Linked DNA regions of Homo sapiens: region 2 is linked to region 1. The links come from fine-mapping of genetic effects on gene expression. A gene starts in region 1. The other region holds a variant in brackets. All regions are shown on one strand. Distances are from middle to middle.

Region 1 (5,376 bases):
CAGGACAAATGAGTGGGAAGAGATTGGGAGGGAGTGTCATGGGAGCTTCTGAGATGCTGTAATGGTCTGTTTCTTGAGTGGCATCATGGTCAGATGGTATGTTAAATTTATCATAATTTATCAAGCTCTACATTCATGATTTGTTTACTCTGTGTATGCCATATTTCAATATTAACGTGAAAAAACACTTTATTAAAATTGTTCTGGAAATGTATAAAAAGGAGGTCAGGAAGCATCAAAAAAAGTTCAGAATGGAGAGCATGATCTCATCTTTTTTACATTATACTTAAAGAGCGGAAAACATGCCATATGTCACAGTCACAGAGACAGCTTTTTGTTATTCATTTAACAATAACTAGAACTTTTTAGAAACTTGTAGAATAGAAATAGCTGAGACAAGAAGTGTAGCTCAATATGGCCAGGAAGAAGATATCATGGAAGGATGTACTGGGGAATAAAGATGAAGATAGAGAGCCAAGTAGCGACCAACTTGTTAAGGGTTTCAATGCTGTGGAATGGGATCAGGATGTCATTTCAGAGATAAGATGCTGCCATTCAATGTTGCTTTTCTTTATTAGATGGAGGGAGTAGTAGGAGGTTCAACTCGCGACAAACTGTGAGCTGAATTTCAGGGGGAAAATGTACCAAATTGTTTGTTTTTGTTTATAACTAGAGAGCTTAAAGATCTTATCTCAATTTGCCCCCTGGGAAGCACCTATCTAAGACAAGGAACAGGAGCCCTTCTGGGGAAGGTTAAAGACCAGGGTGAAGGGCCCCATCAGGTCTGGCCTTAATCATACCTTTGTAGCAGCTTGGAAGACAGTGCTGGTTTCTACAACACTCTCCCCGAAAAAAGGATCAGCATACAAACCACACATTTCTACCGTCTAGAACATGCACATTCATTTGTGTAAACATTGATCTCTTTAGCCTAGTTTGACTAAATTCGTGGCCCTGAGTTACCTACTTCAGTACTGAAGAAAGCACCTGGGATGTAGACAATTTCAGAGGTGAGTAACCCCCACATGTGAAGACAGTAGCCTCTGAAGGAATTCCAGGGCATAAGATTACTGAATGTAATGTTCTGTGGAATGTAACAGTATTCATTACCATCAAGAATTTAAGGAAGAATTTCAATTGTAACTGCAGATGGCAACCCTATATAAATCTTTTCCCTTTCCAATGCCGCACTGAAAAATGCAACCATCATAGTCTTCAACTTGATGATTGAAGTCTAGGATTACACCTATGTTTTAGCCCAACTATTTTAGTAGAGCTCTCAGAAAATAAAGCAGCTGACTCACCTCTTCCTGGCAAAAGTGTTTGGATTATGCCTCCCCAAACACACGTGTGCTGGCACGCATACACATACATAAACCCTCTGAATAAATAGCTTCTATTCTGACGCTGCCATTCCTGCCCTGTGGGGCCACAACAAGCTTTGACATACTAAGTGAAGAACAGAAAATCCAATCCTTACTGTCTAGCAACCTTCATCCTCATCTACCACCCATTCTAGTGCACTCTGGCTCTAGTCACCGTGGTGAGTGGCTGTTACACAAACTTGTACCTACACTCCTCTAGGCCTTTCCTGTTGCTGTTACTTCAGGTTAGAATACTACTATAAACCCTTCCCATTTATTCATCACTTAGAGCTCAACTCCTTCTTGAGGCTTTATTGGAAACTGCCCGCAATTTAACATACCCCAGACTAAGCTGTAATTCAATACTTACCTCTGTGTTTGTATCACATGTTAATTCACCCTCCATCAGAGCACCTATTTTCATCTATTTTATGAGTCATGTTTAATAAATAAGGTTAAAGATCAGATGGTGTGAGAGAAAGTAATATGCTTGAGACTGACAGACCTGAGTGGTCTCTTTCATTTATTGCTGCTTGACTTTGGACAGGTACATTTACCTCCATGACCCAGTTTCCTCATCTGTAAAATGAGGATCATTAAGAGTAGCTATCTAAGAGCTAGCATTATATGAATAAGTATGAGGAAAATGAAAGCACCAGAAAGAGTGCCTGCACATAGTCAGTGCTCCATAAGTGTTATCTCTCATTATTATTACCATTGTTTGAACATACCCCAGAATGTAAGCTCCACACAAAAAGGGAAAAATCACTATGTTTGTATTCTGATGTACAGCACTGTGCCTGGCATGTGGCATGTGGTCAGTAAATATCTGTTGAGTGAATGGAAGCTTTAACGAGTCTGTGAAATAATTCTAATCGTTAGCGCCCTCCTCCTCCTCCTCCCTTCCTCCACCTTCTGCTCCTCCTCCTCCTCTCTGAATCCTCTACCGCCTGATAGCATGGTGCTTTAAGCCCCACAGAAAAACTTCAAGTGGAGGGAGCATCACTGAACGGCTCCTCATCCCTTGACCCTTTTGCTATATCTGTTACTCCATTTCTCGAATTCTCTTCTCTAACAAGTTCGAATTCAGCAGCAACCACTTCAACCAGCCTAGCCTGCCCTTCAGAGGTGAGGGGGCAGGAATGAGAGACAAAGCATGGAAGACGAGGAGTGGGGCGTGGCCACCACAATGCAAAGACTGACTGCGCCTGCGTAGGCTGCGGCAAAATAACGCTCTGAGGCTTGCAGTCGTTGCTGGCCAGCACTTGTGTAGAAAGATCGCTCTTCACACCAGATTTCACTTTTGATCCTTCCAGCTCCAGGGTCTCGGGCTTCAGCTTTGTGCCGAGGCACCAACACTGCTGCGGTCCTCTCTCCGACTGATCGCTGATCTCACCGTTCCCGCTCCTGTCTCCTGGAACCATGTCTCTGGTAAGCCAGAATGCACGCCACTGTAGCGCAGAGATCACTGCAGATTACGGCGACGGCAGAGGTGAAATACAAGCTACTAACGCCTCCGGGTCCCCCACCTCCATGCTAGTCGTTGATGCCCCCCAGTGCCCTCAGGCGCCAATCAACTCTCAGTGTGTCAACACTTCCCAGGCCGTTCAGGACCCGAATGACCTGGAGGTCCTGATCGACGAGCAGTCCAGACGTTTGGGGGCGCTCAGGGTCCATGACCCTCTAGAAGACAGGTCGATTGCTTTGGTGAATTTCATGAGAATGAAAAGCCAGACGGAGGGGTCTATCCAGCAGTCCGAGATGCTGGAGTTTCTCAGAGAGTACTCAGATCAGTTCCCTGAGATCCTCAGACGAGCCTCAGCTCACCTGGACCAGGTCTTTGGGTTGAACCTGAGAGTTATTGATCCTCAGGCTGACACCTACAATTTAGTCAGCAAACGGGGTTTCCAGATCACCGATAGGATAGCGGAGTCCCTGGACATGCCAAAAGCAAGTCTCCTGGCCCTAGTCCTAGGCCACATCCTCTTGAATGGGAACCGAGCAAGAGAGGCCTCCATTTGGGACTTGCTGCTAAAAGTTGATATGTGGGATAAGCCTCAGAGGATCAACAACCTCTTTGGGAACACAAGGAACCTCCTCACTACTGACTTTGTGTGCATGCGATTCTTGGAGTACTGGCCGGTGTATGGCACTAATCCCCTTGAGTTTGAGTTCTTGTGGGGCTCTAGAGCCCACAGGGAAATCACAAAGATGGAAGCCCTGAAGTTTGTGTCAGATGCCCATGATGAAGAACCCTGGAGCTGGCCAGAAGAATATAATAAGGCCCTGGAAGGTGACAAAACCAAAGAAAGAAGCCTGACTGCTGGCTTAGAGTTCTGGTCGGAGGACACTATGAATGATAAGGCAAATGATTTGGTCCAGTTGGCTATTAGTGTCACTGAGGAGATGCTGCCTATACATCAGGATGAGCTATTGGCTCACACTGGCAAAGAATTTGAGGATGTGTTCCCAAATATCCTCAATAGAGCTACTCTAATTCTTGATATGTTCTATGGGTTGTCTCTGATTGAGGTTGATACCAGTGAGCACATCTACCTCCTTGTCCAGCAACCAGAATCAGAGGAAGAGCAAGTGATGCTAGAGAGCCTGGGGAGACCCACTCAAGAATATGTAATGCCAATCCTAGGTTTGATCTTCCTGATGGGCAACCGTGTCAAAGAGGCCAATGTCTGGAACTTGCTTCGAAGATTTAGTGTGGATGTAGGGAGAAAGCATTCCATCACCCGTAAGCTTATGAGACAGCGCTATCTGGAATGCAGGCCACTGTCCTACTCTAATCCAGTTGAATATGAGCTTCTATGGGGTCCTCGAGCTCACCATGAAACCATCAAAATGAAAGTCTTGGAGTACATGGCCAGGCTCTACAGAAAGCGACCACAGAACTGGCCAGAACAATATAGGGAGGCTGTGGAAGATGAGGAGGCCAGAGCCAAATCTGAGGCAACTATCATGTTTTTCCTTGACCCCACGTGAAGTCTAGGGAATATGTATCACTTCAGCTGAGTGGCATAAGTTAAAGATGCCTTGGTAAAATAGGCATTGGGGCTCTAAATTAGAATCCAGGTAGGGCTTGTGTGGGAAGTACAAATTGTGCTTGCTGTCTGTGTTCCAATTCTAGTAGTATTTCCTTCCTTTTAATATACTCTTGGATTAGGTTAATGACCAATATTTATAAATGGAATTTTTCATTTGCCATCCCGGTCTTGTTTCAGCATAAAAGTTCAGACAGCTCTGTAAAATGTATTGATAATATTTACATCTTTGAAATAATCAGTAAAATGGTCTGGTACAGGAGTTAAATAACAATGACACACACACAACAAAACAAACACAAAACCACTGATCTGTGATTGCTCTCCCTTTGTGTCTACTGCCGTATACATATATACAACTATATATACACAAATATATATATACACAAAACTGTCATTTACCTGTATTTGCAATAAAAGCATAATGAATTAGACCCTATGCTTGTGCATTCATTTATTCTATAGGCATTAAGCACCTGCCATGCTCTGAGAACAGTGCTGTGTGCTGGGAATAAAAGAGTGAAGAAGACCCAGCTGGGCTCCAGAGCTTAAGGGGGAGGGCTCATGGAAGTAAACAAGCAATTATATTATGCTATGGAAAGTGGCATAATAGGCATAAGCTCAGAGTTCTATGAGAGTCCACAAGAATAACTCCCGATTTTAAGTGCTGGGAAGGATAGTGGGAAGGTGATGGCATCTAAGATAGTCTGGGGAAGGTGCAGGGGTGTCAAGCCTGGATGAGTGGGAAAGTAGTCAGGAATAGTGGTGGGAAGGATGAAGTGGTATGGAGGGCTGGGGACAAGATGTGCTTTAGTGACATCTATTGTAAGATCTGAGGTTGGGGAGAGGAAGGGAAGGACTGCTAGTGAAGACAGAAGCAGCGTGTAAAGCACCTGTGAAGAATTTGAAATAGCTCAGAAAGACAATGACTTTAAAGGAGGAGTGGGAGAAATAACTCT
Region 2 (5,376 bases), 610 kb after region 1:
AGGACATAGGCATGGGCAAAGACTTCATGATGAAGATGTCAAAGGCAATTGTGACAAAAGCAAAAACTGACAAATGGGATTGAAGTAAACTAAAGAGCTTCTGCACACCAAAAGAAACTATCAACAGAGTAAGCAGACAACGTATAGTATGGTAAAAAAATTTTGCAAACTGCATCCAACAAAGGTCTAATATCCAGAATCTATAAGAAATGTAAACAAATTAACAAGCAAAAAAAAAAAAAAAAAAAAAAAAACAAAAAAAAAAAAACAGAGAAAAGGGGGAAGATGGAAGACAGGAAGCAGGACTAGCTTGCAGCTCCAGCTCACATGGACAGAGCAGAGTGTGGAGACTCATATCATGAACTTTTGCTCCAGAAATACTGCAGGAATATGTCAGAAAAGCGGAGAGAATCTACAGACCCTCTGAAAGAAGTACATCGCTGCTGCAGGATCTGGGAGAAAGCCCAAATACTGTGAGAGCCCAAGCTGTGAGAGTGGGAAAGAGGGATCGTCTACCCTCAAATACACACCTTCACTGGGGAACCTGAAGGTCTAGATCATGGGAGAATGACTTGAGCTTACCTGGAGCTGAGTCAATTTAGAGAGCTGAGCAAAACACAGGGGTAGTAGAAGAAGCAGTGGGAAAAGCCCTGTGCGCTATCTGGGTCCCCAGGGAAGCCATTTCTGACTTGTCTCACAGAGGTTCTTGGGGAGGGCTGACAGAGGAACTGGGAAAAGACCACAGGGAGAAGGAAACCTCCAACTGAACTTTGTAAGAATTCCAACTGAATGCAAAGTCTCCTGGCCAGAACTCGGGGAAGGGCATGATTCTGGTGTGCAGATTCAACAGGTGGGGAGGCAACAAAGTGAGAGGTGACAGCGTGCTGGCAGTCCTCACAGCCCTTGCTCACTCTTGGCACCTCCTCTGCCTGGGCTCCCAGTTTGGCGGCATTTGAGGAGCCCTTCAGCCCACCACTGCACTGTGGGAGCCCCTTTCTAGGCTGGCCAAGGCTGGAGCCCACTCCCTCAGCTTGCAGGGAGGTGTGGAGGGAGAGGCGGGAGCGGGAACCGGGGCTGCATGCGGCGCTTGCGGGCCAGCTGGAGTTCCGGGTAGGTGTGGGCTTGGCGGGCCCCGCGCTCGGAGCAGCCAGCCAGCCCTGCCAGCCCCGGGCAATGAGGGACTTAGCACCCGGGCCAGTGGCTGCAGAAGGTGTACTGGGTCCCCCAGCAGTGCCAGCCCACCAGCGCTGCGCTCAATTTCTCACCGAGCCTTAGCTGCCTTCCCGTGGGGCAGGGCTCAGGACCTGCAGTCTGCCATGCCTAAGCCTCCCACCCACTCCATGGGCTCCTGTGCGGCCCGAGCCTCCCCGACGAGCACCACCCCCTGCTCCATGGCACCCAGTCCCATCGACCACCCAAGGAAGGGCTGAGGAGTGCGAGCGCATGGCGCGAGACTGGCAGGCAGCTCCTGCAGCCCTGGTGTAGGATCCACTAGGTGAAGCCAGCTAGGCTCCTGAGTCTGGTGGGGACGTGGAGAGTCTTTATATCTAGCTCAAGGATTGTAAACACACCAATCAGCACCCTGTGTCTAGCTCAAGGTTTGTGAGTGCACCAATTGACACTCTGTATCTAGCTGCTCTGGTAAGGATGTGGAGAGTCTTTATGTACAGCTCAGGGATTGTAAATACACCAATCAGCACCCTGTGTTTAGCTCAAGGTTTGTGAGTGCACCAATCGACACTCTGTGTCTAGCTGCTCTGGTGGGGCCTTGGAAAACCTTTATGTCTAGCTCAAGGTTTGTAAACACACCAATCAGCACCCTGTGTTTAGCTCAAGGTTTATGAATGCACCAATCGACACTCTGGTGTCTAGCTGCTCTAGTAGGGCCTTAGAGAACCTGTGTGTCGAAACTCTGTATCTAACTAATCTGAAAAGGATGTGGAGAACCTTTTTATCTAGCTCAGGGATTGTAAACGCACCAATCAGCGCCCTGTCAAAACAGGCCACTTGGCTCTACCAATCAGCAGGATGTAGGTGAGGCCAGATAAGAGAATAAAAGCAGGCTGCGCTAGCCAGCAGTGGCAACCCACTCAGGTCCCCTTCCACACTGTGGAAGCTTTGTTCTTTCACTCTTTACAATAAATCTTGCTACTGCTCACTCTTTAGGTCCACGCTGCTTTTATGAGCTGTAACACTCACCGCAAAGATCTGCAGCTTCACTCCTGAGCCCAGAGAGACCACGAGCCCACCGGGAGGAACAAACAACTCCAAATGCGCTGCCTTAAGAGCTGTAACACTCACCATGAAGGTCTGCAGCTTCACTCCTGAGCCAGTGAGACCACGAACCCACCAGAAAGAAGAAACTCCGAACACATCTGAACATCAAAAAGGACAGACTCCAGACTCACCATCTTAAGAGCTGTAACACTCACCGTGAGGGTCCGCGGCTTCATTCTTGAAGTCAGTGAGACCAAGAACCCACCAATTCCGGACACATTTTGGTGACCACGAAGGGACTTTCGCCTATCGCCAAGCGGTGAGACAATTGCCAAGCGGTGAGACCATCGCCTATCGCTGAGCGGTGAGACTTTCGCCTATCGCCAAGCAGTGAGTACCATC[G/A]GACCCCTTTCACTTGCTATTCTGTCCTATCTTTCCTTAGAATTCGGGGGCTAAAAACTGGGCACCTGTCGGCCAGTTAAAAGCGACTAGCGCAGCCGCCGGACTAAAGACACGGGTGTCAGGCTTTCTGGGAAAGGGCTAACAACCCCCGACTCTTCGGAGTTGGGACCGTTGGTTTGCCTAGAACCAGCTTCCGCTTTTCCTGTACTTCTGGGCTGAGCCGAGGGTCAACAGAGAGGAAAGCCATGCAGCTCCGGGGTCCCGACAACATGTTGGTTGACCCTGCGGCCATGAGTGGAACTCTCACAAGCATGTCGCCCAAGCGAGACTCGCCCATCTATCCTATCTATCCTGACCTTTGCCCTCTGGGTCCTAATGCCTGCCAGAGAAACTTCCTCTCACCTCTCTTCTCTGAGGTTAGACCCACCTCTAAAAATTGCTACCTGTCTCTAGTGCTTTTCTAGTTTCTCCTATAAGAATGACTTCTAGTATAAACTCCAGGACTCTGTTACCTTCTTTAGGCACCTGGGCTCACCAATCGGAAAGACATAATTTTTGCCCAAAGCCCCGTTGTAGTGGGGACTACCTGGAATTTTAGGATCCCTCCTCAGACTAACAGGCCTAACAAAAGCTATTCCTGCAGCTAGGATATGGGGAGCCTCAGAAATTGTATCCTTCCTATTTATATAAGTGAGGACAAAAGGTGTCACTCCTCCAGCCCTAGAGATCCTTTCCCTCCCTCAGGGTATGGCCCTCCACTTCATTTTTAGGGCATAACATCTTTATAGGACAGGGGTAAAGTCCCAATACTAACAGGAGAATGCTTAGGACTCTAACAGGTTTTTGAGAATGCGTCGGTAAGGGCCACTAAATCCGATTTTTCTCGGTCGGTCCTCCTTGTGGTCTAGGAGGACAGGCAAGGGTGCAGGTTTTCAAGAATGCGTCGGTAAGGACCACTAAATCCGACCTTCCTCGGTCCTCCATGTGGTCTGGGAGGAAAACTAGCGTTTCTGCTGCTGCGTCGGTAAGTGCAACTATTCCGATCAGCAGGGTCCAGGGACCATTGCGGGTTCTTGGGCAGGGGTTGTTTCTGCTGCTGCGTCAGTGAGCGCAACTATTCCGATCAGCAGGGTCCAGGGACCATTGCGGGTTCTTGGGCAGGGGTTGTTTCTGCTGCTGTGTCGGTGAGCGCAACTATTCTGATCAGCAGGGTCCAGGGACCATTGCAGGTTCTTGGGCAGGGAGAGAAACAAAATAAACCAAAACCATGGGCGGTTTTGTCTTTCAGATGGGAAACACTCAGGCATCAACAGGCTCACCCTTGAAATGCATCCTAAGCCATTAGGACCAATTTGACCCACAAACCCTGAAAAAGAGGTGGCTCACTTTTTTCTGCACTACGGCTTGGCACCAATATTCTCTTTCTGATGGGGAAAAATGGCCACCTGAGAGAAGTACAAATTTCAATACTATCCTGCAGTTTGATCTTTTCTGTAGGAGGGAAGGCAAATGGAGTGAAATACCTTATGTCCAAGCTTTCTTTTCACTGAGGGAGAATACACGACTATGCAAAGCTTGCAATTTACATCCCACAGGAGGACCCCTCAGCTTACCCCCATATCCTAGCCTCCTTATAGCTCCCCTTCCTGTTGATGATACTCCTCCTCTAATCTCCCCTGCCCAAAAGGAAATAAGCAAAGAAATCTCCAAAGGTCCACAAAAAACCCCAGGCTATCGGTTATGTCCCCTTCAAGCTGTAGGGGGAGGGGAATTTGGCCCAACCCAGGTACATGTCCCCTTCTCCCTCTCTGATTTAAAGTAGATCAAGGCAGACCTGGGGAAGTTTTCAGATGATCCTGATAGGTACATAGATGTCCTACAGGGTCTAGGGCAAACCTTTGACCTCACTTGGAGAGACGTCATGCTACTGTTAGATCAAACCCTGGCCTTTAATTAAAAGAATGCGGCTTTAGCTGCAGCCCGAGAGTTTGGAGATACCTGGTATCTCAGTCAAGTAAATGATAGAATGACAGCTGAAGAAAGGGACAAATTCCCTACTGGTCAGCAAGCAATCCCCAGTATGGACCCCCACTAGGACCTTTACTCAGATCATGGGGACTGGAGTTGTAAACATCTGTTGACCTGTGTTCTAGAAGGACTAAGGAGAATTAGGAAAAAGCCCATAAATTATTCAATGATATCCACCATAACCCAGGGAAAGGAATAAAATCCTTCTGCCTTCCTCGAGCGGCTACGAGAGGCCTTAAGAAAATATACTCCCCTATCACCCGAATCACTCGAGGGTCAATTGATTCTAAAAGATAAGTTTATCACCCAATCAGCCGCAGATATCAGGAGAAAGCTCCAAAAGCAAGCCCTGGGCCCTGAACAAAATCTAGAGGCATTATTAAACGTGGCAAACTCAGTGTTCTATAATAGGGACCAAGAAGAACAGGCCCAAAAGGAAAAGCGAGATCAGAGAAAGGCCGCAGCCTTAGTCATGGCCCTCAGACAAACGGTTGAGAGAGGTCAGAAAATGGAGCAGGCCAACCACCTGGTAGGGCTTGTTATCAGTGTGGTTTACTAGGACACTTTAAAAAAGATTGTCCAATGAGAAACAAGCTGCCCCCTCATCCATGTCCACTATGCCAAGGCAATCACTGGAAGGTGCACTGCCCCAGAGGACGAAGGTTCCCTGGGTCAGAAGCCCCCAACCAGATGATCCAACAACAGGACTGAGGGTGCCCGGGGCAAGCG

Direction of the effects. Positions count from the first base shown, and alleles are read on the strand shown. Sizes are in standard deviations (SD) of each study's normalised expression.
In carriers of allele A in region 2, the expression in prefrontal cortex of the gene that starts at base 2,584 in region 1 tends to be lower than with G alone (large effect, 1.2 SD a copy in CommonMind).

What was found. PIP is the estimated chance that this variant, and not a neighbour inherited with it, causes the effect.
Region 2: its variant is the best candidate, but not a certain one, in a credible set for the expression of MAGEE2 in prefrontal cortex (CommonMind, PIP 0.55).

What each region holds. Positions count from the first base shown.
Region 1 is chrX:75,782,462-75,787,837 of GRCh38, reverse strand. MAGEE2 (MAGE family member E2) reads left to right here and starts at 2,584. Exons shown (of 1, transcript NM_138703.5): 1 at 2,584-4,851. The coding sequence starts at 2,787. The coding sequence ends at 4,358. The region is part of intron 3 of LOC107985664 (a long non-coding RNA gene); the gene reads right to left.
Region 2 is chrX:75,175,574-75,180,949 of GRCh38, reverse strand. It overlaps a transcript of UPRT not described here. Among named protein-coding and RNA genes, the nearest start is that of ABCB7, 22 kb to the right of the region's middle. The variant G/A (reference allele first, on the strand shown) is at 2,620.